2 linked regions of the Homo sapiens genome follow. The protein of the gene in region 1 purifies or fractionates together with the protein of each later gene. This does not show direct contact. Each region holds a gene or a part of one and is shown on either strand. Other genes may lie near its edges.

Region 1 (4,662 bases):
CCTCTAGTATTCTCAACTACACTGTATCCATCAATGTTATTTTCTTCTAAACCAAAACTCAAGAAAGTATGTATTATAATTTTTATACCATAGATAGTCTAGGTAGTATAGCAAGGCAGAAAAAGAATGGGTTATCAGCAAGAATTAGCCATGTGCAGCTAAATTATTAGTCATGAAATTATTACAGGACTCTTCTTAACACATAAAAGCAGTAATAAGAACCAGACATTAGGACCCCTAAATCTCAATAAATTGAGTTGACATTGTGTGGTACTCTGTAGTCCAACTTTGGTGGTTGGGAGGGACGTTTCTTAGGCTAATGAAGTCAAAAGTTAGCTGGCATCAGAATCACCTGAAAGATAAATTTTGCTGCTCTTCACATGGTGCAGAATATCTGACTCAGTAGTGTGAGATGGAGCCCAAGAATTTTCATTTTTGACAAGTTTTGAGTTGATGCTCTGCATGCTGCTAGTTAGGGGGCTATATATACTTTGAACACCACTGGCCTAGTAGTTCCCAAACCTGACATAAAAAAAAAAGCAAAAAAACGAAGACCCTGGAGATTTTCTTTTTTTGCTTTTACGGAATCTTAGACCCTATAATTATCTACTGAATCGAAGTAACTTAATTGGCTGTATGTGTCAGTGTACACTGTACAATCAGGGCTCATTGGACCATTTTTCATTTCTGAATTATTTCGAGCAGTTCTGTTTGTAAGGATTGAAATTTCATGACTTATTCTTTCTTAGGGATCTTCAAAAGAATAAAGAAAACTGAGCTATATTTCTCATAAAGTTTATTTGATCTTGAAATTACCACATTGGTCTATTGGACATTTTTTAATTTTGAAATACGTTTTGGGATTTTAGTGGTCACATATTGTTCTTTCTCAAAACATTCTCCTATTTCATTATTTTAGTATTACTCATCAATTCTCAACTATGGTCGAAAGAATAAAATAATTATGATGGAATTAGGATTCCAGTAAGACTTTCCTAAGACTTTAAGTATTTTTTTCATCTTTTATGAGGTCTGCATCCTAATTTATTTGATACTGTTTGTAAGTGGACAGATGCTAAGGGCAGATGTGTATACAAAGGTGATTTGGAAAAAAAAATGCAAAAAAGAATTATTGGGTTGACCATTTGAATTGTTTGTAATCTAAAAATGAAAATATGTTACAAATTATGGAGCAAAGAAGATTGTTGTCCTCTTTTCGTCAAAATAAGCCATGAAAGGCTTAAAAATTCCTTCAAACATTGTGTTTTAATGACGCAAGTGCAAAAAAAAAAAGCAGGAATAATGACAAGCTGTAACCAATTTGAGATGTATCTGAAATCTGGAAGTGGTATTTACAAGATGGATATGTTGTAGATTCATACATGAAGTTAGTAAGCAATTATTTGCACTCAGGTCGTGCCCATTTTTGGTGTACATGACTTTAGGGAAACTGGGAATTGAAATTCGGATTTGCTGTATTTATTTCTTATGAAAATTTTTAACAAAGTTTTTTTCCTGCTGTCTTTTTGCTCTCTAAATTATTCTTCAAGTGTCATGAAAATAAAGGAAATAAAAAAGCCTCTTTGGACTTATATGATAAAAATATTGATGACTGTTTTCCCTGTTATACTGAAGATTACAAGCTTCAGAGGAGAATATAAATTTAACAGGATTGCCCATGAATTAATTGTTTAAAGCTGGATGATGGGTATATGAGTTTTATATACTTCTCTCAACTTTTTCCTGTGTTTGAAATGATCTGTAATAAAAGTGTTGGGTTTTTTTTTTAATTTTCCCATGTGAATCTAATGATTTACCAATGTTGGGAACTACAGGTGTTATTTATTTTTGAAATTTCAGTCACTTAATCTGTCAGAGGATCACCTTCCTCATCTGTTTCAACAGAAAGATGTAGAAATGCTACAGTCTGGGTTGCAGGTGGTCGGGCGATTGGGTGAAGGCCTTAACCAGTGTAACTGCTATAGCTACCATGCACTCTGCACCCACTATGCTCATGTTGCATTGGCAGGAGAGGAGAGAGCACTTTCCTCTGCTCCTGCACTTGGCTTTGACGTGTAAAGAGACACTTTGCTCTAGGGATTTAAAGACTTGAGCTATCTATAGAATGTGATTTAGAGAGGATACCAAATTATTTAAAATAATGGTCATCCTCTCAAGTTAGAAAACTATAGAATCTAATAAAGTTGAGAACATTTGCTTACATAAACATTTAAAAATTGATGGTTAGTTTCATGCATATGATACATCTAAGTTTTATTAGTAGCCAGCTGGTAATAGTTTTTACAACTTTTAAAGTTAGCTAAGTACAGCCATACACCACATACCATTTTGGTCAACAGTGGTCTGCATATATGCCTGTATGATGGTGGTCCCATAAGATTACAGTGGAGCTGAAAAATTCCTATTTAGTGGCATTGCAACTGTCCTAACTTGGTAGTACAATATATTGCTCACATGTTGGTGTTGATGCTGGTATAAACCAACCTATTACCAATCTAGTTTTATATAACCTTCCAGTCATAAAAAAAAATACAGCACAATTACGTGCAGTACATAACATAATTCTTGATAAACAATTATGTTACTGGTTTATGTATTTACTATGCTTCTTATTGTTTTAGATTATATTACTTCTGCTTAAAAAAAGTTGACTGTAAAACAGCCTCAGGCAGGTCCTTCAGGAGGTATCCCAGAAGAAGGCATTGTTGTCATAGGAGATGACAGTTTCATGCATGTTGTTGCCCTTGAAGACCTTTCAGTGGAAAAAGATGTGACAGTGAAAAACAGTGATATTACCTTGACCCTATGTAGGCCTAGGCTAATGTGTGTGTGTCTTAGATTTCAACAAAGAAGTTTAAAAACTAAAAAATTAGAAATAGAAGCTTATAGAGTAATGGTATAAAGAAAAAACATTTTTGCACAGCTGTACAGTGTCCTTTTGTTTTAAACTGTTAGTAGAAAAGGGTAAAGTTAAATTTTAAAATTTATAAAGTAAGAAAGTTACAGTAAGCTAAGGTTAATTTATTAATGAAGAGAAAAATTTTTTAATTTAGCGTAACCTAAGTGTACAGTGTTTATAATAGTCTATTGTAGTGGACAGTAGTGTCCTTGGCCTTCACCTTCACTCATCAGTCACTCGCTCACTGATTGACCCAGAGCAACTCTTTGTCCTGTAAGCTCCATTCATTGTAAGTACCCTATACAGGTGTACCATATTTTATCTTTTACACTGTATTTTTACTGTACCTTTTCTATATTTAAGTATGTTCAGATACACAAGTACTTATTGTTGTATTACAGTCGCGTGCAGTATTTGGTATAGTAACATGCCGCACAGGTCTGTAGCATTGGAATAATAGGATATAACTGTATAGCTCATAGGTGTGTAGTAGGCTATATACCTAGGTTTTTGTAAGTACGCTCTTGTGATGTACAAACAACAACGAAATCACCTAATGATGCATTTCTCAGAACATATCCCTGTCATCAGTGTATGATTGTATTGTATTTTCATTGTTAGTATCATAAAATGCATTAGTTACGTAAGTAATTTAATCTCACCAGGAAAGATTCCAACAATTAAAGCAAAGGCTTTCACCGATCTACCTGTGTGTCTTTTTACATCTTTTTCTCTTTGTTTACATATGTATAGTCATTTAAAATACATGTTTTTTTCACTGTTATAGGAAAAATATAATTGGAATCATGTATATTTTGCAGCCTTGTTAAAGTGCCTTTTGGAGTATATTCTGTATTAGTATACATAGGTCTACCTCATTTTTTCATGACTGCATTGTATTTCATAATATAAGTATACCAGTTTATTTAAACATTTCAAATGTCAGAATCTCTTACCCAGGACTTGGAAATTACTAGTATACAGTCACGTTTAATCCCATTGTTTACTTATGAAGTTTTATGAAGTGTGTGCAATTGATTGCCTAACACTTATTTAATAGGAAACCTTTCCCTAGTATAGGAACCATGAGAGTTTTGTTTTTTTCTGGTGTATTCTGATTATATATAATATGTGTAAATTGGTGCCTCTGTGTCTGACTTCATAAAACTTCTTGAAAGTTGCCTCATCCCCGTAAGCTAAAACTGTTAAACAAAATGAAAATATTTAGAGCATATAACAGCCTCTTTTGCTGGAAGGTTTTATAGAAATAAAGTTGCCAGCATATTTTTAGAAGAGTAACTGCTCCCTGACACCAGAATGGCTTATTTTGAAAAATAAGCCAAAACAAATATACCCTTAGATAGGTGTCTATAATATTCCAGCAAAGGGATTGGGATAGGAAATTCCTACCCATCCCTGTTTTTGCTTTGGATGAAAACAGTCTTAAGAGGTTTCAATTGATGGAAAAGATTAGTATACATCATTTCATTGGCCAGACGTGGTGGCGTCTGACTGAAATCCCAGAACTTTGAGAGCCCCAGGCAGGCGGATCATGAGGTCAAGAGATCAAGACCAGCCTGGCCAACATGGTGAAACCTCGTCTCTACTAAAAGTACAGAAATTAGCTGAATGTGGTGGTGCACACCTGTAGTCCAGCTACTCTGGAGGCTGAGGCAGGAGAACTGCTTGAACCTGGGAGGCGGAGGTTGCAGTGAGCCGAGATTGCGCCACTGCACTCAGCC
Region 2 (5,122 bases), on another chromosome or scaffold:
CTAGACATCAATGTCACCGTTGTGTCAGTCCTACTATTGCCAGCTCCATCTATGGTCATGAAGTTCTCTGCCTCTTCCAAAGTGTCCTGGGCTGTGAAACCCAGGCTAGGTGAAGCCTAAGGCTTTTTCTTCTGTCACAAATGGGAGAGCCCTGACTGCCACCCATAGATCCAGAGGCTCACAGGGAGCCCAGCACAGCCTCCACTAGCTCTGGGACCCTGAGCAAAGGACTGACCCTCTCATTCTTAGTTTCCTTATCTCTAAAATGGGCGAGATAATTCTGTTACCTTACTGGAATGTTATAAAATTCAAATTTCACACAATAGGTATAATGTGCTGGGCACGGTTCGTGGCATGAAACCAGTACTCAATACATGCGAGTTATTCTGTGTGTAGCTCCAGGACTGGGAAAACATCTGAAAGGAGGTAACGGAACAAGGGGCATCAAAGAGAAAGGAGGATGGGGGCATCACCTCAAAGCGGGAGATGAAGTCCTTCAGATTTGGGAAGGCGTCCAAGCACTTGGGCTCAAATATACGGTGGAGGTCAAGGACATCATAGACGAGAAAATCTACAAAAGTGATCTGCAGAAGGCCAAGAATATGTGGGCTGGAACCTCCATAACACGTGAAGCAAAACAGATCTCATTCCCCATATCACTCCTCCTTTACCTTGTTTCCTGCAAACCATGGCCGCTTCCCCAGAAACTCTGAGTAGAGCTTTAGCTTTTCAGGGAGTTCCTCCAAGTACTTTGGCTTCAGTTTCTCCTGAGGCAGAAAACAGCTGTCACCACCCTCGGACAAAAGCTCCCTGCACAGACGTGGCCTCCCCGGGGCTGTGGACGGCCCAGGCTGGCCATGGGCAAGCAGCCATCTTCCCCAAGCTGGAACTGGGGCAGTGCCCAGGCTTCAATTGGATACATCAGCATTTATTAGACTCTGACTGAGTGCCAGACCCTATCTAAACTGATCAGAAGGCAGAGAGGAATGAGATGCTGTCCCTGAATCTGTCCTCACTGACCTCCCAATAGCCTCTGGGTCAGCCCCAGGAGCGCCCAAGCACCTGGCAGCCTCTGGATCCAGACCAGCAGAATCAAGGATGCAAAGAACTAAGGGAGCTCAGGGAAAGTAGAAAGTTCCTTCTAATGGGGTGGCAGAAGAAAACAATGAACATTGACTAGTTTCCAGGGAGATGAGAAGTTCAAGTTGAAAGGAAGGAGGGAGAGGAATAAAGGCCCTCTGACTGCCTCTGAGCTGTCTGTTATGAAAATGCGCAGATCCCTGTGCATGTCAATGACAGCACTCAGAAAACTGTTGAGGAGAAGATGCAATTCGAGGGTGCCATTACATTCCTGAGTCTTCTACTTGAGTCTGCATATTCTAGGAGCAGGCAGGTGATGTGAACTGGCTGACAGAAATGACCCAGGACAGAAGTCAGAGGCCAGAGCTGATGAAGGAGATTCTGAACACAAACTTTACCATACAGGAACTGAATTTCTACCCTGGGATGCCTGGATCGTGTCCTAAGGTTGGTGGGAATTGCCTCTGCTTTTGTTGACATGACATTGGAGTCGTGAGAATAACTGCTGATAGTATGGGAAAGCACTTGGAGGATGAATGGTACCAGGGACTTAAGACCAGTGTGTGCAGGAATGCAAGAGTCCTGGCCCCAAATCCAAACTCTGTCAGATGCAGCTCACTGGGGACACTCACAAATTCTGGATTGTAGCAGATCATGCCCAGCTGCATATGGTTGTCCATGGTCTGGTTCTCCAAAATGTCCACACGAATCTTCTCCTCTTCTGTCTCCCCACCTGCCACCCACAAAACACAGACTCAATCTCAGCATCACAGCCCAGCCAAGGAGGAGGCCACCTTCCCCCCACACATTGCAGCCACCCACACTCACACAGGTTGTGCTTGCGGGCAATGTAGCACAAGATGGCGTTGCTCTGGGTGATCTTGTGAGCCCCATCAATCAAGTAGGGCAGCTGGATGGATGGGAAACCGGCGAAGCTCAGTTGGGCCACCAGGCTCCCCAGCATCCCCTTCCCATAAGCAAGAGCAGAGAGGAGACCGGGCACTCACTGTGCCTGCTCATGGCAGGACTGAAATAAGAATACTGTCACATGAACGAATGCAGGTGGACACAGAACATCATGGAAGGACTGTTTAGACAGCCAGGAGTGAGAGGAATTGGGCAGAAGACTCCTGATCTTAACACCTCTAAGCTGGGGAGAGGAGATGCAGTCAGAGACACGTTGCACTTTCCCCCAAAACCGCCCCTTCCCCTGCACCTACATTGGGAAAGTCCAGGCCCAGCTTGAATTTTTCATTCAGCCACTGGCTTCTGTCATAATCAGGAGCTGTGGTGGGGAAGAAGAAGTGAAAACAAACCTCCCCAGAGCCCAGCCCTCCTTCCCGGGGACCCTCCCACGGAGCCAGTGGCAAGATCCCTGAGACAGGTGGATCTAGAATCTGACCACTCAGTCCCACATCCCAGGGTTCAGGGACAAAGAATCCCGCTGAGGGCTCTGGACCCCACACAGCTAAGGCTTCCAGGGTTTAGGCAAGCCCTGAGGGACACCCGTCCCAATTAGACAGGGGGCCCAGCATCCCACCCCAGCATTCTGCCTTGCAAGGCCAGAGGGCTCCCTCACCGGGGCTCAGGGAAGAGACAGCCTGCAGCTCCAGCAGGGGAGGCCTGCAGAGGCAGCCACAGGTGGCCACCATGGGTTGCTTGGTGCCAACTTAGCGTGAGTGGGCAGAGCCCGAACACGAGGGTGCCATTACCGTCCCCCATCGTGTACTTCTTTTCCTCATAGCTTGAGTCTGTGTATTCCAGGAGCAGGCGGATGGCGTGGGCCAGCTGGGAGAGATGGCCCGCAGGTCGCGTCAGAGATGGAGGGTCCCTGACTTTGTCTGCACCAGGGAAGCCCCCAGTTTACACTGCACGTACCCGTTGCCTCCTCTACCCGCCCACACCCCCAACACACACACAGCGGCATGCACAGGCCCTTCTGAGGCGGGCAGCCCTGAAGAGGAACGGTCCCTAGAGTCCGTCCCGCAGCTGCTTCGCACTTCCCTCCCCTGCGCCCTCGTCCCACCGTCCAGCGGACCCTCGCTCACCCCGCGGATGTCCCAGTACCCCAGTATCATGGGCATGGTGCTGGTTGGTGCGGATTCCGCAGACAGGCCTAAACCGAGCAGGGCTCAGAGTATAAGAGCTCCGGAGAGGGGACAGGCGGGGCCTTGCTGCGACCCCGCCCCTCGGCCCGCCACAACCCGAAAGGCGCCATTCTGGAGGCCCGGGAGAGGGCGCCTGGGGCTGCACTCAGTAAGACTTCCTCCCGCCTCCCAGGCCCGAGGGTTCCGGGAGCGAAGTCAGGGCGCCCAGAAGCCCAAGGCGGGGCTCGGCCTCGCCAGCTTCCCTACCCAGCCCTGAGGCTCCACGAGTCCATCCAGCCCTTGCTAGGTCCACAGCGACTTGGCTGTGCGCTTGAGACACCAGCCAGATCCTAACGGAGCAAAGCTCTTCTCCCTTCTCCTCCCTGCCCGCGGTGTCCCTCAGCCTTCTCTCCGCTGCCGAGTTCCCAAGGGCTCTGGGAGACTCCGGCTGCAGGGGTCAGACTAAAAAGTGGTGGCCCCAACCTGGGAATTTAATTCAGCCCCTGTCACTGTAAGAGCAGGACTTCCTCTGATCCGAAAGCTACTCCCAGGGCTTAGTCTCCCCTCTAGCCCCGCCTACACAGGAACAGTGTCAGTGGTATAGGAAGGACCCCCAGGAAAAGGGCCAGAGTAAAGGAAATGTGGTCTGTGTTTTCTGTTAGGGGCCCTCGGGTACTGAGTCCTTCGGTCATCTGGCTAAGTACTGTGTAAATTAGCCACTTCGTATTTTGGCACAATTTATGAATCGAAATCCAAGGATCAGATCCAGCAAGTTGGTGAGGTATCTGAGGTGCCCCCTAGAAATGTCCAGCCAGTCCACTAGGTGAACCTCACAGAGACCGGAACAGCAACAGCAACAGTGAGTGCAGTGGCCACAGAGAGCAGGCGAGGGAGGATGGAAGAACTTCCCGGACCAAACTGAGGGTCCGGCTGCTATTTCTCTAGGCCCAATAACGAGATGCAGATCAAATGGGGAGGAAGAGAGGTTTTATTTCTGCAACCGGTAACAGGGAGAAGGCCTAGAAATTACCACCAGACCAACTCAATATTACAAAGTTTTCCAGAGCATATATACCTTCTAAGGTATATGTCTACAAGTAAGTGTGCATTCATCTAAAGACATAAGTGATTAACTTCTTTAATCTGTAACTGAGGTCTGGGTCCTGAGGACCTTATTCTGGAGCCTCAGTCTATTTATTTAATCTAAATGGGTCCAGGTGCGGGGGATGATTACCCTTATCTTGTCTCCTGCTAAATCACGGAGGTTTGGGGAGTTCCTTCAGACGCCCAATAAACTTGTTTGTGGAGGCCTGGGGAGTTTCTTCAGACTCACAATAAAACTTGTTTAATTCTAAATAGGTCCTGTTAAGAATTCCTTCATTGTTTTGTCATGCTTTAAGGCCCAGGAAAGGCCTAAGCAAAACTCTTGGTGGGCTTTTGTTACATCCAGCCTCTGTATAAAGGTACTGGCTTTTTTCAGCTTTTAATATTTAACTTCACCACTCAGTCAGTACTGAAACAGTTGTTATGGAGGCCTGTGTTAGTGACGCCTGGCCTGCCACAGAACCTGTCCCTCAGAGAAGCCAGAACCCTGTCCTGCTGAGGAGGGAGGTCAGAGGATGGTGGCCAGAGAGGAGCCTGAGGGCTCCCCACAGGACCACAGGCAGGGACCCTCCCCTCTCCAGATCCACCATTCCGGACCTGGACCTGGCTCCTGACCCATGTGTGTTCTTCAGTATGAGACGGTGGCTCCAGTGGCCTTTGAAGTCACACCGTGATATGTGACCCATGGTACAACCTCCACGAGAACAATGTCCAACCTGCCAACTTTCTTCTTTCAAGGTAGAAGGAAGACTTTCAAAAGAGTTGTGCAATGGATTAGCCTGGGGTTGACTGCTTTAAAGGATATTGCAAATAATAATGGACATATGGAAATAGATGATAGACCTTTAATG

What was found. Proteins that work in one complex are often made in the same cells at the same time.
Region 2: the proteins of ARL6IP6 (region 1) and GSTM1 purify together in Homo sapiens (affinity purification with mass spectrometry; 2 studies listed by BioGRID and IntAct, with this or other methods). This does not show direct contact.

What each region holds. Positions count from the first base shown.
Region 1 is NC_000002.12:152,724,369-152,729,030, forward strand, and holds part of ARL6IP6 (ADP-ribosylation factor-like protein 6-interacting protein 6), read left to right. Parts: intron 1-4,662.
Region 2 is NC_000001.11:109,685,916-109,691,037, reverse strand, and holds the start of GSTM1 (glutathione S-transferase Mu 1), read right to left. Parts: upstream 3,222-5,122; 5' UTR 3,165-3,221; coding exon 3,129-3,164; intron 2,922-3,128; exon of another isoform or gene 2,869-2,921; coding exon 2,793-2,868; intron 2,366-2,792; coding exon 2,301-2,365; intron 1,991-2,300; coding exon 1,909-1,990; intron 1,814-1,908; coding exon 1,713-1,813; intron 768-1,712; coding exon 672-767; intron 585-671; coding exon 474-584; intron 1-473. UniProt on the Homo sapiens protein: Conjugation of reduced glutathione to a wide number of exogenous and endogenous hydrophobic electrophiles. Involved in the formation of glutathione conjugates of both prostaglandin A2 (PGA2) and prostaglandin J2 (PGJ2).